Homo sapiens: one gene and its partners. The protein of the gene in region 4 purifies or fractionates together with the protein of the main gene of each other region. This does not show direct contact. Each region holds a gene or a part of one and is shown on either strand. Other genes may lie near its edges.

Region 1 (6,675 bases), on a different chromosome or scaffold from region 4:
ATTTTTCTATTTTTTGTAGAGACGGGGTTTTACCATGTTGGCCAGGCTGGTCTCAAACTCCTGACCTCAGGTGATCCGCCCTCCTCGGCCTCCCAAAGTGCTGGGATTACAGGCATGAGCCACACCGCACCTGGCCAGGACTTTTTTTTTTTTTTGCCAAAGTCAATTTTTATATATAAAAAGGAATAATTAGTCTTAAGGACCTTTCCTAATTCCTAATGACATTTCTTCTCTCCCCACCTTTAGGCTGATGCAGCAATCGGTGGAATCGGTTTGGAATATGGCATTTGACTTTATTCTTGACAATGTCCAGGTGGTTTTACAACAAACTTATGGAAGCACATTAAAAGTTACATAAATATTACCAGAGAGCCTGATGCTCTCTGATAGCTGTGCCATAAGTGCTTGTGAGGTATTTGCAAAGTGCATGATAGTAATGCTCGGAGTTTTTATAATTTTAAATTTCTTTTAAAGCAAGTGTTTTGTACATTTCTTTTCAAAAAGTGCCAAATTTGTCAGTATTGCATGTAAATAATTGTGTTAATTATTTTACTGTAGCATAGATTCTATTTACAAAATGTTTGTTTATAAAGTTTTATGGATTTTTACAGTGAAGTGTTTACAGTTGTTTAATAAAGAACTGTATGTATATTTTGTACAGGCTCCTTTTTGTGAATCCTTAAAAACTCAACTCTAGGAAGCAACTACTGTTTATTATACTAAAAGGCTGAAAAACCTCCAGGCCAGACTGCTAAGCTCTGAAATTCCTGAGAGGTCTCAGACCGGGATTCTACTTGTTCCAAGAAAGGGTAAAGCTTCTAAACCATCTTATTCTTGTCTCCAAGCATGAACACAGGAGCATGTTAAGAAAATCTTTACTACTTCTTCCATGCGGAGAAATCTACATATTTTGAATTAGAAACACCCTCACACCCACTTGAAGATTTTTTTCCTGGGAACATTATGTCCCGTAGATCAGAGGTGGTGTTGTCTTTTTGCTTCTACTGGCCATTGAGAAACTTTGATGATAAAAAAGAACGGTATAGATTTTTCAAACGTATATAAAATATTTTTATGTTATATGTTATGCCATAACTTTAAAATAAAAATAGTTTAAAATTCTATGCTAGTGGATATTTGGAACTTTTTCCTCAAACAAACACCCCACACTGACTTCAGCAAAACCCTAAAACTAGCTACAGATTACTACTACGAATGAATCATTAAGTTTTGTGTCTGCAACAATTTAGAAGCACTAAGCCCAAATATCAGGAAATGTGTGTATGATGGAATTTTCTAGGACAAAACAGATCAAGATTAAAACAGATCAAGATTAATGTATAAAAATCTCTACTAAAACAGATCAAGATTAAAACAGATCAAGATTAATGTATAAAAATCTCTACTGTTACCAGGTGCTGGCATACAAGGTAGTGTGATGATAGTTTAGTTTGTAAGATAATTCTTGTCCTAGGAGGACAACTTGTGGGAGAGAAGCTACACTAACATGGAAGCCTAACAGAGCTTGCTTACTGGTGGATGTCTGTTTTCTTTATTGGTAGTTTGGTTTAGAATTGTGATGATTACAATGGACTCGTGACTACACAAGCAGTAAAAAGCAGCCAGCTGTGCTTTTACACCATGGTTTCACACAAAGCAGCTAAAGAAATATCAGAATGCCTAATTTTCTATTTTATAAAAGCCCTAAAGGCATATGGCAGAAGAATGCTGGAAAAATCACTGTGGGAAGAATATGCATAAATAAAGAAGTATTTCTTACGTCAAAAAAGTCCCAAGAATCACAAAATCTGCAGAAGCTTGGTTAATCAAATACTGCAGTACTGATTTAATCAGTATAAAATCGAAAGAGCTTTAGATCTGTAATAAAAATCCAAATTTGGGGAAGGGCAAACTTTAAAACAGCAGCCAAGTAGAGAAGGGTTGGGGAAGGGAGAGGTGAGTGAACAGGCACATTGGAACTGTGGGGACATGTAACTGACCACTGTCAAACCAGTGTAAGTTTCTTGGTTTCTCATGGAAAACATTTTATACACCTATTTTTCTTCCTTCCATACTTAAGTCCATCAGTGTCCAAATACGTCTGTTCCATTTTTTGTCTGATTTTTGTTGGGATATTACAACACAGTATTGCATTTACTCCAGTTCCTGCTCCATGTGAAAAAATTAGATGATTTCAAATACTTTCTTCAGCTCCACAATAAGCTGCCAGTCACTCTTCTGCATTTCATCTCTGAACCAGTCTTTGAGTGCATCAATGGACTGCCGGCTGATCTGCAATGCCCGAGGCACAAACAGGGTAAACAGAACATAACAAACGTGCCAAAGAAAGCTGTGGCCCCAGATGCCCGCTCTCACTGTACTAAAAAGCTTAAGCAGAAATAAAAAACAGGGCTTGCCTGCCTAAGGGAGTAGAATTCCAAAATCACATCTGGTTTGCATGTCAGGCACGAGGGGACCTAAAAGTCCTAGCTTTCTCTGTTGGTGCTGCTTTCCTGATAGAGCAACTTCCTCAACAGACAAGGCCCAGCTAGAGGTCAAGCCCTAATGGGGGATCCAGTCCCATCAGATTCTACAATCAAACTGAAGCCCAAGGAGCTACAGGTACAGGTGACCCAAGAAGAGTGATTCCCTGTTGCTTAAAGTGTGCCACTTTTGCTGAAATACTTACCTTACTAACAAGAATATCTGTAGCTTCAAAATGTCTTCCAAACATTTTGGGTGACTCACCAGGGATAGGTTCTATTTTTACACAAACTTCTTGTCCTTTTTTTGCAACATCCACTTGTTTATGGTTTATTTCAATACTTGTTACTATTCCGATGTCAACAAACTATAAAATAAGAACAAATTAAAATGCATGCAGAAGAATTCATGCCAATCACAGGCGCCATGGCTGGATAGCTGAAGTAAGAACTAGAGCAAAAGCCTGTTTTAAAAGTCATGGCAGTGCGATCCTTTCATCACTCACGGTGTAACATTTTGGTAAACTAGGCTGGCACCACCAACACCCTATTCCCTTCATGATGGTTGTAAGAATGACAGGAGATAATGTGCTTTGCAAAACATTCCAAGTGCCCTGTTGACCCAATGTCATTTCCTATTTTTGCTCTACCATTTCACGTGACAGGTGCCGTAATAGGAGGGATCAGCAGGCACAAAGGGTCTGAGTCAGGAATGAGCTTGAAGTGGCTGATGGGAATGAAGTCAGAGTGAGGACCAATCCTGAAATTTTAAGAATGATGGCCTGTGAGCAGATGAGTGATGTGATCTCAGAGTTTGGGGCAAAAAACCCTGACTCCTTTGTGGAGAAAAAGATTCAGGAGAGTAAGAGTGAAAACAGGGAGAGCTCTGGTTGGTTTAGGAGGCCAAAGCCACATAGAAAGTAACACAAATAAATGTCCAGGCTTAGTCCACTGAAATGGTAGAAAAGCAATGACAACTTCTAAGTGCCATTGCCCATTACAAGAACCAGGTTTGGGCCAGGGAAAGTACTAGATGAGGCTGGAACATCTCAACCAGAAAGGAAGATGATGCTCAGACTGCTGTGTGTCAAGGATACAGGAGCCAGTTGAGCTCCTACTGACCACAATAGAAAATCTGAGTATCAAAAGAATAAAGGTAATGGATTATATTAAAAAAAAAAAAACCCACTGAGTCTATGACTCAATAAAAAGGTCAGTGGGAAGAGGTTCTTTGTAAGAAATGGGGGGACAGGTATATCCACAATTTTGCAACCATCTACGTAATAGTTGACTTAGGCAACGCTTGCCAGTGGGTACTAAAGGCACTGGGATAAAGGCTGTTGAGAAACAGGATATCCATTAGGAACTCCAGGTACCAGACAGATTACAGAGTAATTATAAAGGGGCAAGTTTCTAATGGAGATGGTTGGCGTCTAGCACTTTCCCCAGGAAATCAGAGCATCAGCAGCAGTCAGACAGGCTGGGTCATGCAAGAGGCAGGCACACAGGGAAACTGCATGAGTGTCTTTCCAATAATTCTAACCTGTGTCTAGTTGGGAGGGAGAGAAACAGATAAATCCAAATGGAGGAGGGATTTGCAAAACAACAGGGACACTTCAAAAAGAATGGAGGACTGTTCTTGACTGAGGCTCAGCCACAAAACAAGCCCCAGTGCAATGCAGCTTGCAGGGCACTGGGCCAGATTGGTGGGGAGAGTTACCAAAACATCTTTGGAATAACTGGTGAAATAATGTTGAGGGCTGCAAATTATAGGATATTGTTGAAATATTATTAATTTTTCTTAGGTATGCTGACAGAAAGGGAAGGTAAACATGAGTGTTCATTATACTAGTTTTTAAACTTTTCCACAGGCTTGAAACCTTTCAAAATAAAATAAAAGGCAATAATGTAAAGTGCCTTGGAGCCCCAATTAACTGAAGCACTGAGATCAGCACTGAGTCAACACTGACTATGGAGCACTGATATTTACCAATACTGAAGCACAACAGAAGGTGACAGGCTCTGCTTGTTTTAAAGTTACCACATTTTCTTCCTACTGAGGTAAAAACACTGAAACATTTGTTAAGAAGGTGGAGACCACACTAAATACACAGCACAGTACTGTGAACTACAGGCACAAAGCTGTGTTGGTACGACTCTTGGACACTCATTTAGTGCTTTAAGAAATGACCCACAGAATGTACAACTAGAACTTACATTTTTGCTTGGGACACACATGGGTGTCCCCTGTTTCACCTGACCTGCTTCCACCGTCACCCCCATCACTATCGGATCTCGAGAATTAAAAATGTACTGAGGGAGGATTTTTATCTTGCAGGGAAATACTGCTATGTGCCTGAAAGGAAAAAAGAAAAGAATTTTAAGCTTACAGAATCACTTAAACATAAAAAGAAAAACTGCAGCTGAACATCAGGCTTCTCCCATTAGAGGAAAGCAGCTTTCCCCAGCGGCCACAGGAGAGGGGCAGGCAGGGTGCTGCAGCCCAGGGCCACCCCATGCCCAGAGCGCTTCTTCCTTGTTCTTAACCTCCTCCTCCCCATTCTGTTGCTTCCCAAGTCTTTGCTTTCTTCTCTTTTAAAGCCCTACCTCCAAAAGAAGCTGCATCACAGGAGCATTCTGTTCCTAGTCTAAAACACTGAGCTTGGCTGCTGAAGATGTCAGCCACAGTCTGGGGCTTAGAACCTAGGCAGTACCTGGTGACAGGCAGGTCTTCGTTAGGCACATATGTAGGCTACTGGGGGATCACATAGGCATCAGACCGTATTATCACCCTCCTTTTCTCCACCACGTTCCCAAACCATTGATCCAAAAGGCCACTACATAACTACCCTGCTTATTGAGCACACGCTTAAAATGCTTTAAAAGTTTCCAGCAGTCTTGTTAAGTAGAATTCTTCTCACTTCAGGTTTCATGATCTAAAGTGAGCATATACCAGTCTAAATCCTAATATTTACTAGTAAGCTCCACTTAAAAATGTATCCCAAACTACGCCATCACTCCTATCATCACTGTGGTCTGAATCACCTAGACCTCTTGCTTGGACTGTGGGAGCCTCCTGACAGGCTCTTGCCACTGACTTCCTAACAACCCAAGGTCCACATAACAACCCAATTAACCAGTCTGATTGTGAACACACAGCCTTGGCAATGGCTTCTTGCAAAACTCAGAGAAGCTCAATCCCTCCCATGGCCTGTAAGATCCTTGACGATACAGGTCCTGCCACCCTCTCTGACCTCATTTATCACTGTCCCTTCTGGTCACTCTGCCTCGCACTGCTGTTCTCTCTGGACACTCCCCATGTGCCTGTGTGGCTTACTCTGTCTGAAGAGGTGAGATGCCTTCCCAAACCACATCATTAATCACAGTCCCTCCTCTCCTTATCTAGGCCCTTCCCTGCTTTATTTGGTTTTTCAGCACTTCTCAACATGTGTCAATTGTCCTGCAATAAGAGCATGTCCCAGACCAGGCACAGTGGCTTACACCTATAATCCCAGCACTTTGGGAGGCAGAGGCAGGTGGATCACTTGAGCTCAGGAGTTCAAGACCAGCCTGGCCAACATGGCGAAACCCTATCTCTACCAAAAATACAAAAAATTAGCCAGGCATAGTGGTGTGAGCCTGTAGTCTCAACTACTCGGGAGGCCAAGGTGGGAGGATCACTTGAGCCCAGTAGGCAGAGGTTGGGGTGACCCATGATCATGCCACTGTACTGCAGCATGGGTGACAGAACGAGACCCTGTCTCAAAGGGAAAGGAGGAGGGAGGCTGGCCTGGTTCTCTGCTGATGCCTCCTCTACCACTGCAGCAATGTAGGTACTGTGAGTGCTTGAGTGAAAGTTTGGTAGAGGAATGGACTTCTCTCCCACAGAATCTCTTATTTCCCGGTTTTCCTCACTCAAGTTTTGTTACTTCCAATCTATATAATCCCAGATGAGCAACATAAAGTCCCTACATTTAATAACTACGAACCCATTAACAAGACCCAAGTCTGCCAAGATTATTAAACTGAAGTCACAGACAAGACTTGTTTGCATACTGCTGGAATGTCCCCAGTATGTTGGGTTTCTGGTTTGTAACACACCATTTCAGGATGCAGCCTCTGGTAGATGAGTAAATGCCATGATTTTGCTGTTTACAGCCCTTTCTGGAATTCAGTAATTCTCAATCATGTT
Region 2 (7,456 bases), on a different chromosome or scaffold from region 4:
ACATAATCTCTGCAGAAATACAAAAGCCCTAATGCTGGCTGCACTGGGGACACAGGTAGGAGGAAATTTTCCCCTGTAAGCAGTTTTGAATTCTGAACTATGTGGACAGAACACCAAATTTTAAAACAAATGAAAGTGAAGCTGGCTGGGCACAGTGGCTCTCGCCTGTAATCCCACCACTTTGGGAGGCCAAGGCTGCAGTGAGCTCTGATGGCGCCACTGGTACACTCCAGCCTAGGTGACAGAGCAAGACCCTGTCTCCAAAAGTGAAGTGGCAACAGACAGAAACGAGCACTTCTGCAGCTATCTCACAAAACTAGTTTGCCACCAAAACTAGTTAAAGTGACCTGGTGTCCGCCTCACTGAGCTGCTCCAGCAGAGGCACAGGCATTCTGCATACTGGCGCTGCTGTGCACTGACAGCCATAAGCCAAGTCAGCCTTTCCCCAGGAGTGCCATGGCTAGGAAGATGCATCTCCCTCGCCTCCAGTATAATTTTAAAAGTTATGGTTGTAAAATGACAAAAGAAAAAAACTAGACATGTACTAAAGAACAAAACAAAAACTGGCTGGGGGTGGTAGCCCACACTTGTAATCCCAGCACTTCGGGAGGCTAAGGCAGGTGGATTGTTTGAGGCCAGGAGGTAGAAGTTGCAGTGAGCTGAGATTGCCCCACTGCACTCCAACCTGGGGGACAGAGTGAGACCCTGTCTCAAAAATTAAAATACTACTTAGGCTACATTGTGGGGGGGGTGGTAAGTCTATGGATTTTGATTTCCTTTTTGCTGTTTTCTATTTTTGGTAACATGTTTATGTAACTTCATTTTTTAAAAAATTGCTACATTCAAAATTTCCCCCAAAAAAGAAACTTCATATACAAGTTAGTTCATATACAAGTTAGAAAATGAAATTTTAAAATACCCCATAAGACACATCAAAGAATAATTCTTTAAAAATGGTACCAGAACCCTACAGAGAATGTAAGGTACCAAAGGATGTTAAAGACCTAAATAGATCACATTCATGGGTGCAAAGAAGTGATACTGTAAAAAGAAAGAAACTCAAAAGATACCTAAAGGCAGGTGAAAAGACATTTACAACAGATAAAGGGCATATAAAGAACAACAGGAAGAAACGAGGGAAATCTTACGGCTCAGCCACTGTCAGGGCTGGGGGGTTCTCGGTGCACCCTGGAAGCAGCTCCCACCACCGGGGCCACAGAGAAACCCACACAAGCCCCAGACACGTGGACAAGAATACTCAGAGCAGCCTGGCTCTCCACAACTTCTGACCAAGAACCACCGGAGGCCCAGCAGAGCAGAACGGAGCAGTCTGCTGTGCCGAGGTGGGTTTCTGCAGCGGACATTATTCGGCTATGAAAATGAACTTGTGGCAGCCCCTCTGCATGGGCAACCCTCATGCCAAGTGAGCAACGTGAGACTTCAGCAAACACCAAGATCCACGTACAAAGCTCAAAACAGGCAAAACTGAGCATGTCCAGGACACGCACAGGTGGCAAAGCCATAAAGCAAAACGAGGACATGGTCACAGGCTGGGATGTGGCTAACCTCCCAGGTGACACCTGGGGATGGTAAGGGGCTGGCCAGGTTCCATTTCACATGGGTGCAGCCTAAACTGCATACAGCTCCTTATAGTTACCCACATGTCCACAGGCCTCACGCACTTTTCTTCTGTGTCACATTCCACAACAAAAGAACACCACACACAGGATTCTGGGGAATCCCACAGGCTGGAAGAGCCAGGAGCGTGGCCTCACCTGGGGTTGATCTCCAGCGTGGGCTGCAGGAGCTGTGCGCGCTCCTCCTGGGTCTTGGCCAGCTGCTGCATGCGCAGGAAGTGGCGGGCAGCCCCCATCTCCAGCACGGTGACCATGGCAGGGTGGGTGTCCAGTCGGAGGGTCACCTGTGAGCAAAGCCCGGGGTTGAGGGTGATAGAGGTTCCCAATGTGAGAGGGCTGGCAGGATCTTACCAGGGGTGAAGGTCACCCAGACCACGAGGTAGCAGGCGGGGTCTCAAGGACTCCCCTGGACCAGCGCTGCTCCCTCCCCATTACCCACTAACTTGTGGGCCCTGAGCTGATGCCCCACGCAAAGATACTGTGCCCGAGGGGCTCCACCACCCTGGTGCCCCGCTGCTGCCTCCAGGAGCTGCCCGAATCCATCGTCCTCTGCTCCATGCCAGCCCACCCTGCATGAGGCCCCTTCCTCCAAGTGACCATGCATGGGACGCTCATTTCTCACTCTGAGCTAGACAGGTTGGTGGGGGGAGTCTTAGCTCTCTGAAGCCCACCCAAAACCCCCGACTAAGCACCCAAGTGAGCATGTGAGCTCCTGAGGGCTGGGGTAGCATGTCCCTTGTTTGGAACCCCCACGTCCTCAGCCATTGCAGCTCCCACTCAGGATGCTGGTTTTTCAGTTCTCAGTTCACACCTGCTCTGGAGCAGGGCTGGGAGAAAGACACGGCCTTCCTGCCTCAGCGGCACTCCCGAGCAACACGTGCCGAGCAGGGACCCACAGGGTCTCCACCTGACACCAAGGGCTTCTGCTGCTGCTGGAAGGACACCCAACGGGCCAGGTACTGGGAGCCACCAGCTGGCCAGCCTGTTAGGGACACTGCGGCCAAGTGGTGGTCCATCCCCGGGAAAGCCTCACCTTCACGTTGGTGACACGCGACCCCAGCACATTTCTCATCCAGGCCATGAGCTCCTCCGTCTCCTTCTCTGATAGGCACTCGGCGGCTGCGGAAGAGCAGGCGACAGGGAGCTCAGGCCTGCATCCCAACTCCCCGGCTTCCATGGGGGCCACGCAGCATGCTTCCAGCTCCCACCTCCTCTCCCACCAGGATGGAGACACAAGCTAGCAAGATGCTTTTCATCTAAAAGTAAAACCTCAAAGGATGCTTCAGGTTGCCTGAGGCCCATACAACTTGGTTAGGGCTTTAAAAAAATACACAGCCTCTCAAGAAGCTGGGCCAGCTCCAGAAGCCACCGTGGCAGGAGCACTGGACAGACCCCTGATATCTAAACCAGGAGGCACCTTCCTCCAGTCACCAGGGTGCTCCCACAAGGCTCTTCTCGGGGGTGGCTGAGCCCAGGTCAACTGACGAAAACCCAAAGGAAGCCCTCGCTGCGGGGCAGGAGAGGCGTGCGGGGAGTGGAAACCAGCCCCACGCCTAGAGAGCAGGGGATGCCGACCTGGGGACCTGTCCTCAAACTTCTCCTCCTTGTAGTGATCCACGACTATGTCCGTCTCCACAGAGATCAGCTTCTTCTTGTCAAACTCACGAAGGTGCAGCAGGGTGAGCTCATCAAACTGCTCAAAGCAGAAGAGAACCTGCAGGTGGCCAAGAGCAGCTCCATCAGACCCCGGGGGCCTCCAGCCACCACAGAAGAAAGGATGAGGGCGGCAGGAGGGCTGGGGGAGCCAAGCGGGCCACACTGGGGAACACCGGGGCAGTTGGGGTTCCTAGGCCTGCATGACAGTTACTACGACACCTGGGTCTAAGGAAGGCTCTGACTGCCTTCAAGGCAGAAGCACTCCACGCATAAAGAAATCCACATGTGGCTGAGTGCAGTGGCTCACGCCTGTAATCCCAGCACTTTGGGAGGCCAAAGCAGGCAGATCATGAGGTCAGGAGTTCGAGACCAACATGGTGAAATGCCGTCTCTATTAAAAATACAAAAATTTGCTGGGTGTGGTGGTGTGCACCTGTAGTCCCAGCTACTCAGGAGGCTGAGGCAGGAGAATGACCTGAACCCAGGAGGCGGAAGTTGCAGTGAGCCGAGATCGCACCACTGCACTCTAGCCTGGGCGAGAGAGCAAGACTCCATCTCAAAAAAACAAAAAACAAACAAAAAAAACCACATGTGACCTCCAAGTGGGAAACAGCCGTCACAGTCGGTCCGGCCTCTGTGCCCGTGACCCTGACCCACTGTGCAGCCCTGCCCGGAGTCTTGGGCAGGTTCACCCAGCACAGAGCTGAGAAGGTCAAGACCCTCCCCAGGTTGCAGCCCCCGGAGCCCGCCCCACCCACCGCTCACCCACCTCTGTGTCTTTCTTCTTCATGGCCTCATAGTAGGGTGAGTGCTCTGCCAGGTGACGGTTGGGGGCGCACAGGTAGTAGATGTTGCGGGTGCCGGCCCGCATGCGGCTGGCGTATTCTGAGAGGCTGGTTAGCTGCCCGGAGGGCAGCGCCGAGGACTCGTAGCGCAGCAGCTTTGCTATGTCCTCCTAGAAGGGACGGGGCAGGTCACCACTTATTCCAGGCCCATGGGCTCAATGTTGCCCAACTAACTGGGCGCAAACCCTCCGATGCCCATGGCCTCCTGGCACTCCAGGCTGGCCCTGACCCGAGGGACGGTAGTGGACTCGGGGGTTGTCCGAGAGCAGGCCTTGCTCTGCCCATCAGGCCCCTTTTGGGAGCTCTGGGGGCTTAGGAAGCACCTCCTGCCCCAGGTGGCCCAGGGGCTCTCCAGGGAGCTACGCGCACCACGCCCTGGGAGGGGACCCCACCCAACAGCAGAGCCCGGCCTGGACCCAGCGTCTTCCCTCTGCCCTCAGTGACAGAGTCAGTCTCTGGTGGGCACACGGACACGGGTGAAGTCCACGGTTCCCGGCCCTCCTCACAGCTGGCTATGGCAGAGACTGGCTTTGCCCAGTGGGTTTCAGTGGGATTTGGAGAAGGGCCCTTAGGGGAGGGGTTTGCCCTCCTCCCCATCAGCTGAACGCAGCTGTGACCTCTAGAGCTCATGGGAGCTGCAGCTGGAAGGACGCAGGGGGAAAACAGAAAGAGGGAAAAGCAAGGAGCTGGACACCCAACCAGCAGGGCCCAGGCCACCCCTGCACACATGGTGGGTCTGCATTGATAAGACATGTCACACGTGCACACCTACAAAGACCTAGAAATGTCTCTGACTCTTACCTGTGTGCTGTTAACTCAAATGAAGATAAAGGAGAATGAAGAGGCCTGTGTCAGAAGCTGCCGAAGTCGGCAAACAACCAGAACACGGCCTCCTTGGGACCCCACACACGTGGTCACCCTCCTCCTGCTGCTGGGGAGAAGGGACACCAGCACGGGATGGGCTCCTGGGATGAAATGTTCTGGGGTTACAGTGGAGGCAGCCACACCACACTGTGAATGCACTAAATGCCACTGAATTTTACGTGTTAAAAGGTGAATTCTGTGAATCTGATGCTATGTAAGTTGTATCTCAATAAAAAATGGACAAAAAATGTTTATGGAACAAATGTTTCGTTTTTCAGCCATCCACTATTGGATTAACTGAACGACTGGCCCCTGTAGCATAGTATTTGGAGACTGATATCCAGTACATGATGAATAGTCCCTCAACAGACACTGAGACCACCCACTTCCCCACCCACGGGATCGGAGTCCTTGGCTTGTCCCACCTGTCTGTGGCTCCCCAGCCCCCAACATCCTCTGAGGGGAGACAGTGTGTGCACGCCCTCTTCCTGCCACTCCCTGGGCTGCACCTTCACACAGCAGTGAGGCTGAGCCCTTCAGAGCACAGCACAGCACTGGTGGGAGGGTAAGGATGTGCCTGGAAGGTGCCAGAGGCCCAGAAGCCTGGCCTTCCATTTCCTGACCCTGGTGGCAGCAGCAGCAGCAGCCAGGGTACCCAGCTGCACCGTCGCCACATCAGGGGACACCTCCACCAGCTTCCTCAGCAGCCCCAGGGACAAGGTGGCCCAGAAAAAGGCCTGGAACACAGCTCCTATACCTTGACCTCCTGCTCGGTGGCGGTCACAATGCCCTCCCGCATGAACAGGCCGTAATCTTCAAAAAACTTTGCATACTTCTCAGCATCTTTTTTACTCTGGTCAATGAAGAATTTGATCAGCCTCTGCTGTAAAACGTCCCGGAGTTTCCTACAGAAAAGAAATGCATTTAATACATACAAGCAGCCTCTATGAAATACAAATGGCCAGAGGGTACGAAAAAATGTTCAGCCCCGCTAAGAATCAAAGAAGTGAAAACAACAAGGTACCGTTATTGGCCAAACTGAAAAAGACTGAGCAGAAAGACAGAAACCCTGGGCAGTGGCCGGACAGGAGGCAGCAGGGTGGAGGGCAGACACCCCCTGGAGGCAGTAGGAGAACCGATGCCCCCAGAGACAAGATACCCACGCCCGGAAAACCCTTCCAACCTTTGAGCCAGTTGTTCCAATTATAGGAACTGCACCTTAGGAAACATGTGAGCACACCAAGATTTATGTACCAGGATTTTCACTGTGGCACATAAAATATAACAATTATGAACAACCTCATGTTCAAGAATATAGGCTAAAATTATGTAATGCTAAATGGCCATAAAAAAAAAAAACTGCATCTTTTAATAATCCTCAATGACATGAGAAAGTTAGCTGTGTTGAAAGAAAACCCAGAAAAATCCCAATGTGGGTAAATTACAGTACGTCTATAGATACAGGCAAAGAATGCACATTCTACATGTACATAACAATTTTCCATCATTAGGAGCAGCACTGTATATACTATATATGTACACTGTAATTTGGGATTTATACTGAATATATGTATACTCTAATTTTTCAAAATTGGGATTTTAGGGATCAGGATATTTACTGCAGCATTACATAATGGCCTAAAATTAGGAACAACTTTATCACTGGGACTAGGGATATTTTTATTTTCTTCTTAATATTTAGTCTTTCCTTTAAGCAGGTAAATTACAATGTATTTCAATAATCCAGAGCATGGGAACAACACTCTCTCGAGTTCATTTAGAGCCTTTCCTCCCACACTCCATCCCCAGTGACTCAGTCCTTCAGCCACAGGGCAGAATGGGACAGGACATGCCTTCGTGCCTGGGAGCGGGGGGACAGTAGCCCAGGATGCGGTGCAGAGCCCAGGGAAGGTGTCTATGCAGGGCCATGGTTGGGAAGAGCCTGGTATGGGTGTCAGAGCCCAAGAACCCCAGAGAAGGGTGTCCAGGCTGGGGGCGTGACCAGCCCACCGTGAAGAGTCAGAGCCCAAGTAGGTGACAGGGACACCCGCAGAAGAGGGCAGTGGCAATGGTAGATTGGTTACATGGAGGGGGATTGGTCAAATGGGTAACCGTGCTAAGAATAATCAACGGGGCATGGTGGCTCCTGCCTGTAATCGCACCACTTTGGGAGGCTGAGGCGGGCGGATCACCAGAGGTCAGGAGTTTGAGACCAGCCTGGTCAACATGGTAAGCCCCCGTCTCTACTAAAAATACAAAAAATTACCAGGGCATGGTGGTGGGTGACTGTAGTCCCAGCTACTTGAAAGGCTGAGGCAGGAGAATCGCTTGAATCCGGGAGGCAGAGGTTTCGGTGAGCCAATACCTCGCCACTGCACTCCAGCCTGAGCAACAGAGTAAGACTCCATCTCAAAAATAAATAAATAAATAAATAAATAAAAATAAAAAAATTTT
Region 3 (7,315 bases), on a different chromosome or scaffold from region 4:
CAGCAGGTACCAGCTGCCAAGCCAGGCCTTGGAGTCAGCAAGATTTGTGGGGGGTCTGGGAGGTCTAGGAACCTGGGTTTCAGCTCCTCCAGGAGCTCTTTGCCCCATTGCCCTTGGGCCTGGCCAAGGTCCATCTGTGCTCCTTGTCTCAGGATGAATCTTTGTAACTGAGGTTGGTTCCATTTGAGTGTCATCTGAGTTTGATCACCATGGGAGGGGCATGACTGGTGATCATGGTGCCCTGGCTAGGGAGGTCCTGGCTTGACTCAGGGGATGTTTCTCAGCTGGGGTCACTTCTTTCTTGCACATCACTATGCATGCCTACCATAGTGTCTGAGGACGTAGGATCTAGCCCTGGTATGAGGCCCTAGGTCTGTTAGTATCTGGGGAGGAAGGATCTGGTACAGGTATGAGGACCTGGGTCTGTCCATGTCTGAGGAGGTGGGATTTGGCCATAGGGTGGGGCTGCAAGCTGGAATCCCTTATAGCCTGCACTGCCTTTATCCCTCCAGAAAAGCAAGTGTGTATCTAGTCTGTGGTGGCCTCTTTGGACTACATGGCCCTCTTCTCCCTTGGGATCTCCAGAGCCCCCCGAGAGGCTTAGCAGGCCCTCTCCTAGTCACATTATGTCCCAGAAAGCTTTTCCACACCTGTCCCTGCTTTTTTTTTTTTGAACAGATTCTCACTCTGTTTCCCAGGCAGGAGTGCAGTGGCGCGATCTCGGCTCATTGCAACCTCCGCTTCCTGAGTTCAAGCAATTCCTGTGCCTCAGCCTCCCGAGTAGCTGGGATTGCAGGCATGCACCACCTTGCCTGGCTAATTTTTGTATTTTTAGTGGAAACGGGGTTTCACTATGTTGCCCAGGCTGGTTTCGAACTCCTGGCCTCAAGCGATCCACCTGCCTTGGCCTCCCAAAGTGCTGGGATTACAGGCATGAGCCACCATGCCCAACCCTATCCTTGCTTTTGTTTAGTACAAAGCCAGTCCCTGTCCAGCAGCTCTTGAGTTGCTCTGGGCAGGTACAGAAGGCTTCACCAACACCTGGAAGCAAATCCTGTGACTGAAGGAGAGGCCAAGGTTCCCCAAATCCCAGCTGCCTTGGTGAGGGTTGCCATGACCAGGGCCCAGGTGGGTACCCAAAGCCTAGCATTTAGTTGTGGTGACAGCCCTCAAAGGCTGTACTCTTAGCCAGGCATGGTGGCTGATGCCTGCAATCCCAGCACCTTGGGAGGCAGAGGCTGGGGGGAATTGCTTGAGCCCAGGAGTTCAAGACCAGCCTGGGCAACGTAGTGAGGCCCGGTCTCTACAAAAAAAACCCACAAAAACTAACAGTAGCCAGGCATGGTGGTGCGGCACCTATAGTCCCAGCTACTTGGGAGGCTGAGGCAAGAGGCTTGCTTGAGCCCAAGAGGTCGAGGCTTCAGTGAGCAATGATTCTACCACTGTACTCCAGCCTGAGTGACAGAGTGAGACTCTGTCTCTTTGGGAAAAAAAGAAGCTGTGCACTCTGGACCCCAGCCTGCTCTCCCTTAAGAAATGAGCTGATTTTGTGACCGATTTTGTCTTTAGGGAGGTCCTTGCCTGACCTCCAGACCCACCTTTTCCTGGGCATGAGTCCTTCCTGCACAGTGGCTTAAGCAGGAAAGGTTGGGAGGCTGTGTCCTCACTGGTGTGGGGAGGAAGGGGATCGTGCCTGTGGACACGTGTGCAGGTCCACCTCACGGTGTCAGGGCAGGGTGGGTCTGCCTGGAGCATCTGGGCAGGACTTTGGCATGGTGCAGGAAGGAGCAGGATTTGCGTACAGTGTGTGAAGGATCAAGACTTGCAGGAAGAGGGTTGGGTTTTTTTTCTTTCTTTTCCTTTCTTTTCCTTTTTTTTTTTTTTTCTTTTTTTTTGAGTTGGAGTTTTGCTCTTGTTGCCCAGTCTGGAGTGCAGTGGCATGATCTCGGCTCACCACAACCTCCGCCTCCCGGGTTCAAGCGATTCTCCTGCCTCAGCCTCCCAAGCAGCTGGGATTACAGGCATGCGCCATCACACCTGGCTAATTTTGTATTTTTAGTAGAGACAGGGTTTCTCCATGTTAATCAGGCTGGTCTCAAACTTCCAACCTCAGGTGATCCGCCTGCCTTGGCCTCCCAAAGTGCTGGAATTACAGGCTTGAGCCACTGCGCTCAGCCTCTTTCTTTCTTTTTAAATGTTCTTTCATTTTGCCAAGAACTGGGTTTCTGTTCCTTTTCCAGGGCGACATGGAGTCCAATGGGAAATACATCACCAAATCTGGAACCCGTGTGGACCACCAGACAGGCCCCATTGTGTGGGGGGAGCCAGGGACCAATGGCCAGCATGCTTTTTACCAGCTCATCCACCAAGGTAGGCCCCTGTGGCCTGGGAAGGGTGATGTTGGGGGAGGGAAAGGATCTTCCAGAAGAGATATCTCACTTAGGTCAGTGCCCTCCTCTAGGCCATATGGCTAGCTCCCATGGGCTGGGGTCATGTGGGTGACCACAGTGCCCTTCACAGGCACCAAGATGATACCCTGTGACTTCCTCATCCCGGTCCAGACCCAGCACCCCATACGGAAGGGTCTGCATCACAAGGTAAGAGCCCCCATCTGGCCCCATCTGGGGGGTCTGGCTCACATTGCACCCAGACCTCTGAAAACCTGGTGCATTGGTTGGCAATCACGTTAGTTTTCTATTCCTGCCGTAACAAATGATAACAAACATGGAGGCTTAAAACAACACTCTTCTTTTGTGGGGTGGGGAGGGGGGACAGAGTCTTGCTCTGTCGCCCAGGCTGGAGTGCAGTGGCACGATCTTGGCTCACTGCAACCTTCCCCTCCCGGCCTCAAGTGATTCTTATGCCTCAGCCTCCCAAGTAGCTGGGACTACTGGCACTCACCACCATGGCCAGCTAATTTTTGTAGTTTTGGTAAAGGGGGGGTTTCACTATGTTGGCCAGGCTGGTCTTGAACTCATGACCTCAAGTAATCTACCTGCCTCGGCCTCCCTAAGTGCTGGGATTATAGGCATGAGCCACCTTCCTGGGCTATCTGAAGAGTTTCTGAAGCTCAAATATCCAGCAGGCCCTGATGTGTCTCTGCTTAGAGTCTTGCAGGCTGAAATCAAGGTGTCATCAGGACTGTGTTTCTTTCTGGAGACCTTAGGGGAAAAGCCTTTGACCTGCTTGTCAGGTGGTTGGCAGAATTCATTTCTCTATGGTTGTGGAACTGAAGTCCAGCTTCCTTGCTGTGGGCTGAAGGTCGTTCTCAGATTCTCAGAGGTCACCTGCATCCTCTAGCTTGTGGGCCTCTTCACTGCAGAACCAGCAATGGCAGGTTAAATCCTTCTCTGAAGCTTTGATTCTGTCTTGCCACTTCTGTTGCATCTCTCTGACTTGTTTACCTTCCTCTTCTACATTTTGCTTTTGTTCCCTAAGTGACAGTGTCATGCTGTGTTGTCTAGGCTGGACTTACAGTGGCATGATCACAGTTCACTGTATTCTCAACGTCCCAGGCTCAAGCAGTCTTCCTGCCTCGGCCCCTCAAATAGCTGAGACTTACAGGCACTAACAGGCACTTACAGGCACTTACAGGCACTAACAGCCTGGCTAACTGTTAAACTTTTTGTAGAGGCCAGATTTCACTATGTTGCCTAGGCTGGTCTCCAACTCCTGGGCTCAAGTGATTCTCCTGCCTCGGCCTCCCAAAGTTTTGGGATTACAGGCATGAGCTACCGTGCCTGGCCCTCTTTTACTTTTAAGGGCCAGTGTGATTAGATTGGGGCTACTAGATAATCCAGGAAAATCTCCCCTTTTGTTTATTTTATTTATTTATTTTATTTTAGAGATAGCATGTCACTCTGTTGCTGAGGCTGGAGTGCACTGGCCCAATCATAGCTCACTACAGCCTTGAACTCCTGGGCTCAAGCAATCCTTTTATCTCAGCCTCCTGAGTAGCTGGGACCACAGATGTACAACATGCCTGGCTAAGTTTTTTTTTTTTTTTAAAGAGACAGAGTCTTGCTCTGTTGCCCAGGCTGGGGTGCAGTGGCACAATCAGGCTCTCTGCAGCCTCACCCTCCTGGGCTCAAGCAATCCTCCTACCTCAGCCTCCTGAGTAGCTGGGAACAGGCACACGCCACCACACCCAGCTGATTTTTTTATTTTTATTTTTTGTAGAGATGGAGTCTCAGTATGTTGCCCAAGCTGCCCTCGAACTCCTTCAGAGAATTTACTGTGCTTTGTCTCAGGTGTGCAGAGCAGCACAGGGTTACGGTAGCACAATCTTGGGAGTCAGTGAGCTGGATTGAATTCTGATTGTTCCTGTCTATAGTTCTGTGATCCAGCACTGTGGACTTGTGGAACCCAAGGCTCTACTAGAACAGGGCGATGATGCCTTTCCTCCTTAGGATCTTAGTATTATTTTTTTTTCGAGACACCGTTTCACTTTGTTGCCCCGGCTGGAGTGCAGTAGTGTGACCTTGACTCACTGCAACCTCAGCCTCCTGGGTTCAAGTGATTCTCGTGCTTAAGCCTCCGGAGTAGCTGGAATTACAGTTGCACACCACCACGCCCAGCTACCTTCTTAGGATCTTAAAAGATAGATGTTGGTAAAATTGTGAGCAGGACCCCTAGCAAGTGGTGTGTAGTTCTTTTTTTTTTTTTGAGATGGAGTCTAGGTCTGTCGCCCAGGCTGGAGTGCAGTGGCGTGATCTTGGCTCACTGCACCCTCTGCCTCCCAGGTTCAGGTGATTCTCCTGCCTCAGCCTCCTGCCTGATGACAGGCATGCGCCACCATGCCCAGCTAAATTTTTTTTTGGTATTTTTAGTAGAGACGGGTTTCACCATGTTGGTCAGGCTGGTCTCGAGCTCCTGACCTCGTGGTCCATCCGCCTCGGCCTCCCAAAGTGTCGGGATTACAGGCGTGAGCCACCGCGCCTGGCCACTGGTGTGTAGTTCTTAAAGAGCAGTTATCACTGTTCCCTGCCTTGTGGTGTCATCGGATGTGTCCCCCTCGCTCCAACTGAGCTGTACAGCGAGTGACCCAGGCTGGGACTGACCCCTGCTGAGAAGTACCAGGCGGTCTTGTCCCTCTGCCTGAAGCCCAGACAGTGCTCTCAAGCATAACTGATGTCTCGCTCATCAGATCCTCCTGGCCAACTTCTTGGCCCAGACAGAGGCCCTGATGAGGGGAAAATCGACGGAGGAGGCCCGAAAGGAGCTCCAGGCTGCGGGCAAGAGTCCAGAGGACCTTGAGAGGCTGCTGCCACATAAGGTCAGCACTTCTGCATTTGGCTTTGGGGTGCATGCTGGAGTTGGAGGTGTGAAGCTATGGCACCAGGCAGGGGCTTGGGGCGTGCCTGGCTTGTCCTACAGAATGGGAGGGCCTGTCCTCACAGACCTGCACGTCTCAGCCTCTGGGGCAGGGTGTGCTTCCCTTCAAGGGGTTTAGGGATCAGGACTCTCTTGGAGACATTCCTTGGTGTTTTCTGCAGGTCTTTGAAGGAAATCGCCCAACCAACTCTATTGTGTTCACCAAGCTCACACCATTCATGCTTGGAGCCTTGGTCGGTGAGTGAGTAGGGGAAAGGTCCTGGCTTGGGGTAGGTTGGAATGGGCTTGTGGAGCCCTGATGTGCCCTGTCTGTCACTTCTGCAGCCATGTATGAGCACAAGATCTTCGTTCAGGGCATCATCTGGGACATCAACAGCTTTGACCAGTGGGGGTGAGTTGCTCACTTAGGGGAGGGCCGGGAATACCTTTGTGTCGGCTCAGGGATTTCAGTAGCAACGTTAGAGCCTTCCTCATACCACTCTTCCCTTCCCTTCCCTTCTTGGCAGAGTGGAGCTGGGAAAGCAGCTGGCTAAGAAAATAGAGCCTGAGCTTGATGGCAGTGCTCAAGTGACCTCTCACGACGCTTCTACCAATGGGCTCATCAACTTCATCAAGCAGCAGCGCGAGGCCAGAGTCCAATAAACTCGTGCTCATCTGCAGCCTCCTCTGTGACTCCCCTTTCTCTTCTCGTCCCTCCTCCCCGGAGCCGGCACTGCATGTTCCTGGACACCACCCAGAGCACCCTCTGGTTGTGGGCTTGGACCACGAGCCCTTAGCAGGGAAGGCTGGTCTCCCCCAGCCTAACCCCCAGCCCCTCCATGTCTATGCTCCCTCTGTGTTAGAATTGGCTGAAGTGTTTTTGTGCAGCTGACTTTTCTGACCCATGTTCACGTTGTTCACATCCCATGTAGAAAAATAAAGATGCCACGGAGGAGGTTGTAGGCTCAGCCTCTGATTTTTTTTTTCCTGTGATGGTGCTTTATGTAGCAGAGGGCAGGAGCGCTCAGCAGGACGCAGGCTGTGCCTCTGCGGACACTTAACACTAAGTGGTGAGCGGGTCTAGAGTGGAGCAAGGTGCCCTGAGAAGACAATAGTGGGGTGGGGGCACAATCAGTCAGGACGGCAACTTGGCCTGTGTCACCAAATCCCAAGACTGTTTTCCACTCCTCACCTCTGTGACTGCAGAAATTGGATACTCTGTTCACTCGATGGTTCTAAAAACTGCATTGAGATTATGTTTGTTTCGGGTGAATTCCTGGACAAGACCGAGGATGACTGCCATCTCCTGGCAAGACGCTCAGGTAGTTCTTTTGCTTTAAAAGGCAGATATTGAAAACTGGAATTTTTTTTTTTTGAGTCTCGCTCTGTCACCCAGACTGGAGTGCAGTGGTGCAATCTCGGCTCACTGCAACCTCCGCCTCCCGGGTTCAAGCTATTCTCCTGCCTCAGCCTCCCGAGTAGCTGGGATTACACGGCGCACACCACCATACCCAGCTAATTTTTGTATTTTTAGTAGTGAAGGGGTTTTACCATGTTGGGCAGGCTGGTCTTGAACTCCTGACCTCAGGTGATCTGCCCGCCTCAGCCTCCCACAGTGCTGGGATTACAGGTATGAGCCACCACGCCCGGCCCATTTTTTTTTTTTTTTTGACAACTTTTTTTTTTTTTTGAGACAGGGTCTTGTTCCATTGCCCAGACTGGAGTGCAGTGGCATGATCACAGCTCACTGCAGCCAGTAATCCTCTTGCCTCAGCCTCCCAAGTAGTTGAGACTACAGGTTGTACCACTATGCCCTGCTAGTTTTTTCATTTTTTGTAGAGAGACGGGTCTTTTTTTTTTTTGAGACGGAGTCTCGCTCTGTCGCCCAAGCTGGAGTGCAGTAGCACGGTCTCAGCTCATTGCAAGCTCCGCCTCCCAGGTTCACGCCATTCTCCTGCCTCAGACTCCTGTGTAGCTGGGAGTACAGGCACCTGCCACCATG
Region 4 (7,456 bases):
TGCTTTAAATAGTCAAAAGTTCTATAAGCAGTAGTTCCTCTAAGCTATGTATTACATAACTCCATAGGTATGATCCATTGCAAAAACCTATAAGCTCTGTCCTCCCCCAATAGAAGGGATTTACTTTCATCTCAGTCAAATTACTTATTAGTCTACGGTAGGACTGTTACATCTGTGCTTAATTTTTAATACATGTTGGGAATGTGGCTCTGATAGAAAACCATGAAAAAGGTTTCACATCATACAACTGATGATGAAAGGTAAGAAAGAGTTATTAATAAAATGAAAAATCATTTGCATATATGGCCAGAGGTTCTACAAAAATACCAGATGGCGATAAACCTAATATTAATTCTAGTTAATTAACTGATACAAGTGTTTATTCAATAAGTTAAAGGTTAATCATTGTATCACAGACTGCATTAGTTCCAAATATTCACTTCCAGGTTACTTATCCATTTTGCTGCAGAAGCACTGATGTGTTTGTTTAGGGGTACTACCCCTAGACCTGCTGGTGCATTTTATAATAGAAAGTTGGACAGGACCATTTGATTAGCTTTGACCAATGCATGTGACACCCATACCTAAGGAGATGTCTTAAGAACTACTGCCTGTTTTTTCCAGCTCTCTTGCTCCTTTCCTCTGCCGTAGGAGCAGCACATCCCAGATAAGGCTGTTCCTTCAGCCTGAGTCCCAATATAAGAAACATGGAGAGAACTCCAGCCTAGCTGCATGTAAAATGAGCAAGAAATAAACTGTTGTCATTAAAGCCACTGAGATTTAGAGATTGTTTATTACAACAGCACAACCCAGTGAAAGCTGACTGACATTGCTGGTCAAAGCACTGCTGATGAAACTTGTATCCCACACAAGCACCTGTTGAATCTGCCCTTAATATCACAGCATTTAGGATGCAGACAGGATAACAGAAATTCTAAAGAATTTCCAACAATACTTGCTGAGATCATCACAGATACTTGCCACAAAAAAAAAAAAAAAAACTTAATGTAAATCAAAACAGGTCTCTTGCTTTTAAAATGTCTAAGAGAACACAGATCAACAAAAAGGAGAAGCATATACAGTCATGTGTCACTTACCAATGGGGATAAATTCTGAGAAATGCATCGTTAGGTGATTTCATCATCGTATGAACATCATAGAGTATACTTACACAAACCTAGATGGTATAGCCTATTACTCCTAGGTTAAAAACCTGTACTGCATATTGCTATGCTGAATAATGTAGGCAATTATAGCAACTGTACCTTTTCTATGTCTTTACAGTAAAAATAAAATATTAAAATCTTATGGGCCTACTGTCATACATGTGGTCTGTCCTTGACTAAAATGTCATTTTTAGTGCATGACCATACTTGGCTTGAAAGCTTCAGGAAACCAACTCTCTTCTCTTAAAATGTAAGAGTTCCAATAAACTCCTCTTAGTTTCTTTGAATTTAGGAACAGGTAGTCTTATGAACAACCTTTGAGAACATAACTAATTCATAGGCAGGGGTGATTTTACATGCAGAAGGTCCATGTTACTAGTAGTCAGTCCAGTAGTAACAAAGGTATAAATAATTCATTTAGGGCTGGGCACGGTGGCTCATGCCTATAATCTCAGCACTTCGGGAGGCAGAGGCAGGTAGATCACAAGAGGTCAGCAGTTCTAGACCAGCCTGGCCAACATGGTGAAACCCTGTCTTTACTAAAAATACAAAAATTAGCCGAGCGTGGTGGCAGGCGCCTGTAATCCCAGCTACTCGGTTGTGGGCGGGGGGGGGGGGGGGGCGGGCTGTGGCAGGAGAATTGCTTGAACCCGGGAGGAGGAGGTTGCAGTGAGCCAAGATCGTGCCATTGCACTCCAGCCTGGGGGAAAAGAGCAAGACTTCGTCTCGAAAAAAAAAAAAAAAAAATTAATAATAATAATAATTTCTTCACAAATATCAAGAGCTTTCAATTCCTTAATTAAAACTGAATTATGCCAAAACCCTTTCTATGCATCAAAGTAACAAGTTATTTCTAAGGCATATTATTTCTAAGGCAACTAGATTCAATGATTAGTTAGGAAAAGGGGATTAAACTTCCTTGCCTTAAAATAAGGCTCTGAGCTTTTTGCTGTATAGTATCTCCTTTGTTTAAAACCAAACTGATGCTTTTTCCAGAGTGTAAACCACTTGGTGAACAGCCCAAGGATGGGCTTACATTACTCACAGAGTGACTGAACTTCTAAAATGAATTATCATATGATATGTCATCCATATTCATTTACAATAAATGAAAGCTAATTACAACAAATTCTAAAGATTATCCACTTTCATTATAAAAATGAAGCATATTTCTTAAAAAGAATAACATTCCCAGTTTCAAATGGCTAGGGAATAAAAGAGGTCACAACCAGTCACTGAAAGTGCCTCAAAGAACACTGAATTAGTATGGAAAAAGTGTTCTGGGGAAAAGAACAAAACCATATTGCAAACGGCCGCCACAAAAATTGTTCATGCTCTTCCACCTTATGAATATTGTTTAGGAAGAAAAGGAAAAAACATTTTCTTCTGTTAGAAAGCTATACATTTGTAATTGTCAAAAGGACCCTTTGCAGAAAATTAGAGTATTGTCTAGAATTTTAAATTATGCCTCTGCTCCCACACCTACCTTGCCTTCTCCAAACTCTTTAGTCTGATATATAATTTAGTGGAAGAGCTGGCATTTCTGGCTGATTGCTCAATGTGGTAAAAAAAAGAAGCAGCACTTGGATACTTGAGGTATAAGGAAAAAAGTAAAACGTGGCTGGGCATGGTGGCTCACGCCTCTAATCCCAGTACTTTGGGAGGCCAAGGCAGAAGGCAGGAAGATAGCTTGAGGTCAAGAGTTCAAGACCAGCCTGGCCAACATAGCGAGACCTTGTCTCTATTTTTTTAAATAAATAAAAGAAAAAAGTGAAATGAAAGACAAATATTTGCCTCCTGCTCTCTACACAGAGGAAAGCTGCTATAGAAGATCAATTCTTTGTTCCTTTTGCCCATCCCAGCTACTTATAGAATACTGTGTGAGCAACAAGTATTAGATGCTGGATACTTTTCTCTTCGTAGAGAGTGACTACCACTCTGAAAAAAGCTTCAAAAGATCTGTATATCAAATTACTCATTTTATTGAAGGTTTGTTTTTAAATAAATTTATATGTAAAAATACTTTTAATATATGATATTTTTACTGATCTACTCCAAAGATTGAGAATGTTTTTGTCCTATTAAAGTTCTTAAGGTAGGAGGATTTAGCTTACCACCTTCATCATCATAATACTGATTTGCCCCGTAATTACCATTACCACCCTAACCACCAACCTGGTGCAATTCTTCTACCTTATACAACAGAAAGTTAAATATGTAAGAAAATGAAACCTAGAGATGAAATTTGAGTAGTTTTAATCACAAGAAAAAAAACAAAGAACAAAGAACAAAATAACAAAGACTAGTGAGCCTTTCCATTTGAAGTCTTCATGTTTATTTTTTAACTTACCATTGCAGTAGGGATTGGATGGGTTGAAGTTCATTGGAAATTCATGTGATACCTGTCAAAGATGGACAAAGGACTGATGAGGGCTGGGCTGCTTTTCTAGGAGGCAAAGCTTTAAAATAGAGATTTCCTCTTACCTGCCACTGAGGAGGTATCTGAGCGCCAAAACCAAAAGCTGGAAACATCTTATCACTAAAAAGAAAAAAATATTTAATAAAATACTGTTTTTTCCAAAATAAAAAGCTTTATCTTTGCCCACAATAAAATCCATATGAGCTCATTTCAAAAAGTATGAAGATAAAACAAAGATTACCTATATTAACTGCCAAAGAGAATCAATGTTAATATTTGACAACTCTCATCCTAAATATTTTTCTGTGCACTGAGGAAGAAAAATGTTTCTTTCTATAGATTTTGTAGAAATGGAGTTTACATGCATGTTTTATAACCTACTCTGTTCTACTTAAATCTTGTGTATCATTTCAGTGATCAAATGAGTAAATAAATACATGAAGCCCTGAAAATCACAATTCTTTTTTTACTAATTGATGGCAAACTCATTTGGTAGCAAAACCTGACCTCAGATGATCAGAGGTTATTGGTAGCTTTTATTTATGCCACTTAATACAAACATTCATACATTAGGGAGAGGGACAGTGGACCGAATATATAACATCACATGAATAGCCACTGAGTATCCCACAAAATGGATATCCTCCCCCAGATGTCTGATAGCCAATGTTCCGCCATTATAAAACACCATAATGAACATAATTTTTCTACGAGGAATATTCCTTTCATATTTATTCTTAACAGTTAGTTTTGCACTGAAGATAGAGCCTATGCCATGTCAGAAATATTTCCCCCAGGCTGAGGTGGGAGGATTGCTTGGGTCCAGGAAGTGGAGGCTGCAGTGAACTGTGACTGCACCACTGTACTCCAGCCTGGGTGACAGAGCGAGACCCTTTCTCAAAAGAAAGAAAGACACATTTTTCCCCAGTTTGTAGTCTGTCTTCAACTTTGTTTAAAGCATCTTTCTTTTCATAGTTTTTAATATTAATGAATATGAACACAAAAAAGCTGCATGATTTTTGCCTTTGCTCTCTTGCTTAAAGGTTTTCCTCACTACAAGATTATAAACAATTCACATACACTTTCTTCTAAAACTTTAAAGTTTGCTTTTGACATTAAACTTCTAACTCATCTGGAAAGTGTTTTGAAGTAGGATATGAAGCAGGAATTGCTGCTCTCCGGCAATATCCATTCTCTCCTTTAATAATAGAACACCTGAGCTAGAGACTGCTCTTCCTAGCTTCTCTGGCCTGGATGTGATCAGATGGCTGGGATCTAGAGATGGAGATGTGAGTAGAAGTGATTTGCCAGCCACTTCTGAATCATGCCCCTAAAAGGGAATGCACATTCACTCCCTGGTCCCTTTCTTCTCTTCCCCCTGGCTGGAGAAGATGAGAACCAGAGCTATGGAACCCCGGAGGGAAGCTGTGAATTGAGAACAGCAGAACTCCCCTATCAGTTCTTAACTATTATATTTACCCCTAGCAATGTGAAGTGAAATAAACCTCTATTTTGTCAAAGCCACTTTGTTTTTGGGTGTCTATTTCAGCAGTCTGGTCTGTACTCTAATTTATACAGAATAATATCCTAAAACATGCAAGTATGAGTCAGGGATCCAAATTCAATTCTTGTCCAGTTTGACAGCTTTTACAACCCCCTCCCCTAAATTCACTTATATGCATGGGTCTATTTCTGGACTGTTTGCTTGGTTCCACTGGTCATGTCCTAATTCCATACTCTTAAGATAATTGCAATAATACTTTTAATATCTGCTAGTGAGAAATTATTAATTTTTTAATCCTATGTTATATTTGACCACCTTTCTAAGCTCTCACTACTGTCTAATAAAGTAACTTTCTATATATGTTAAATATATTTAATGATTTTTACCTTAAAACTTACTAGCCTGAAATTGGAATTGCCACCTTACTTTAGATTTCTTTGCATTTGCCTAAAAATTTCACCTCTTTAAATGCTACAGATTAATGAAAAGCCCCATCAATATGTAAATAAAATAATAATAGACAAAAGCAAGTGAAATTTTATTCTGTACTCTTAACGCTACATCAGGAAAAACACTACTAATGCAGATGTTTTCCCTATTGTTTAGTAAACCCTCAATAGGACCTATTTAAATCTTTTCAAAACCTAACCATTGATAACCATTCAGAATATTTCATAGCAATTAGATCTAGTTATCCTTCAGCACTTGTTAAAAGTCACCGTTAAAAAAATAATTTGGCAACTGCCAAGGACATAGATATGCTAAGAAATAGTTTTTATTTCTTAACATAAATAGTATTTAGTATTTATAAATAGTATTTAGTATTTAACATAAATAATATTTAGTATTTATAAACAGTATTTATAAAACATGTCATCTGGGCTTCAATCACTCATACAACTTATGCCTAATGAATAAGCCCCAAGGAAACCAGACTAAAGAAACAAGAGCCTTGCTGACATTCAGTCAGGAAGTAAGTAGCAAACTATATGTAATATAAAGCAAAGTACATGCCATATATGATAACTAATCACAGAAAGATATTAGAGATCTAAGGTAAACAGCAAGATTGCCACAAGGAGAAAAATAGAAGATAAGACGGGGGGATTTTAGGGAGAAAGCATCATCAACCTACCACCTATATCAGAGTGCTAGCCGATGAAACAAACTACCCTTTCTGGGGAATTGTGAAAACATGTATTTTAGTTTTTCCAAAGTCATACTCACGCATCATAATCTTGAATGACCAGTCCCACAGACCAGAGAGCAGTCAAATACTCATTAACGCCATTGGGGCTGATGTAATGAAGGGAGTCTGGAGACCTTGGGTCACCATTGGAGCCAGTGAAGTCCACTCCCACCTGCCAAATAACAATTGCAGCCCTTAGTAAGGAGAAGGCAGGGACACCTGTGCTTGATGTCCAGGAAAACTTCAAGAGATGGGATACAATCATGCATCCTGGCGCCTACTTCCTAACAAATGCCTACCACTATTTCCATAGACAATTAAACAAGTAAAGCCTAAATGTGAAACAACCTGATGCTTCTACTTTTCTAGATGGCTTAAATAATGAATTATTGTATCCATTACTTAAGCTTAAGGGTTGTCTTTTATAAGGTTGTCTCACTAATGCTTTCTAGTCCTTAAATTAGTTCAGGATAACCACTAGTTTGTAGGTTTGTATACATCTGCTTTCTCTCAGGAGGAAGAGATCTCATCAACAAAACTGAGAGCTTCATGATGAGCCCAGACAACCTGCCTGAGGACTCTAAGAGGACTATGCTAAACAGATTGTGAAAATTTCATTACAAAGTCAGTTTTGCAGTGAAAGAAAATATACTGCAACATGGAGGAAAAAGCCTATGCTGAAAAATTCAGTGTGTTACTTACAGTAAAATTCAGCTGACATCCTCCCATTATATAGTCAAGGAATGTGCATTCTACTGTAATCTAAAAATAAGAGAAAACTTAAAATTACAACTCTCCTACTATACAAGAGAAGCAAAAAACTCTTTGGCATATATTTTTAAAAGTCTGTAAATTGAACAGGACATGATATAAACATGGAAATTACCCCTGCATTCAGGTTTAAGATACCCCTTCCCCTATGTGCCATGAATCTGTAAAATTCTGCTTCAAGATAATTGTAGCAATGTTAAGATTAGAATACTAATGGCGAAAGATGAAATACACTCATTTTAAGTTTTAAGATATTAGTAATGAATCCAATATGTTGAGGGCTTTAAAAAGCATAGCAGTCAACATTTTAAAAAACAAAAACTCCATTCCACTTGTTCACCCTAAAAAATCTTGGCTTTTCCCCTTTACTCATAACATTTTATATTGAAAGTATGAAGAGGATAAAT

The links.
Region 1: the proteins of CPNE3 (region 4) and EIF5B purify together in Homo sapiens (affinity purification with mass spectrometry, with the first as the bait; one large-scale study listed by BioGRID). This does not show direct contact.
Region 2: the proteins of CPNE3 (region 4) and TRAP1 purify together in Homo sapiens (affinity purification with mass spectrometry, with the first as the bait; one large-scale study listed by BioGRID). This does not show direct contact.
Region 3: the proteins of CPNE3 (region 4) and GPI purify together in Homo sapiens (affinity purification with mass spectrometry, with the first as the bait; one large-scale study listed by BioGRID). This does not show direct contact.

Annotation. Positions count from the first base shown.
Region 1 is NC_000002.12:99,394,924-99,401,598, reverse strand, and holds the end of EIF5B (eukaryotic translation initiation factor 5B), read right to left. Parts: intron 4,840-6,675; coding exon 4,701-4,839; intron 2,852-4,700; coding exon 2,690-2,851; intron 2,293-2,689; coding exon 2,185-2,292; 3' UTR 359-2,184; downstream 1-358. Other genes in the region: DNA repair protein REV1, read left to right, coding at 247-358. UniProt on the Homo sapiens protein: Plays a role in translation initiation.
Region 2 is NC_000016.10:3,660,212-3,667,667, forward strand, and holds part of TRAP1 (heat shock protein 75 kDa, mitochondrial isoform 1 precursor), read right to left. Parts: intron 5,908-7,456; coding exon 5,760-5,907; intron 5,251-5,759; exon of another isoform or gene 4,249-5,250; coding exon 4,063-4,248; exon of another isoform or gene 3,352-4,062; coding exon 3,213-3,351; exon of another isoform or gene 2,757-3,212; coding exon 2,671-2,756; exon of another isoform or gene 2,435-2,670; intron 1,922-2,434; coding exon 1,776-1,921; intron 1-1,775.
Region 3 is NC_000019.10:34,394,061-34,401,375, forward strand, and holds part of GPI (glucose-6-phosphate isomerase), read left to right. Parts: coding exon 1-6; intron 7-2,240; coding exon 2,241-2,370; intron 2,371-2,520; coding exon 2,521-2,597; intron 2,598-5,146; coding exon 5,147-5,275; intron 5,276-5,495; coding exon 5,496-5,571; intron 5,572-5,658; coding exon 5,659-5,725; intron 5,726-5,840; coding exon 5,841-5,976; 3' UTR 5,977-7,315. UniProt on the Homo sapiens protein: In the cytoplasm, catalyzes the conversion of glucose-6-phosphate to fructose-6-phosphate, the second step in glycolysis, and the reverse reaction during gluconeogenesis.
Region 4 is NC_000008.11:86,547,295-86,554,750, reverse strand, and holds part of CPNE3 (copine-3), read right to left. Parts: intron 7,041-7,456; coding exon 6,981-7,040; intron 6,451-6,980; coding exon 6,317-6,450; intron 3,706-6,316; coding exon 3,651-3,705; intron 3,569-3,650; coding exon 3,517-3,568; intron 1-3,516. UniProt on the Homo sapiens protein: Calcium-dependent phospholipid-binding protein that plays a role in ERBB2-mediated tumor cell migration in response to growth factor heregulin stimulation.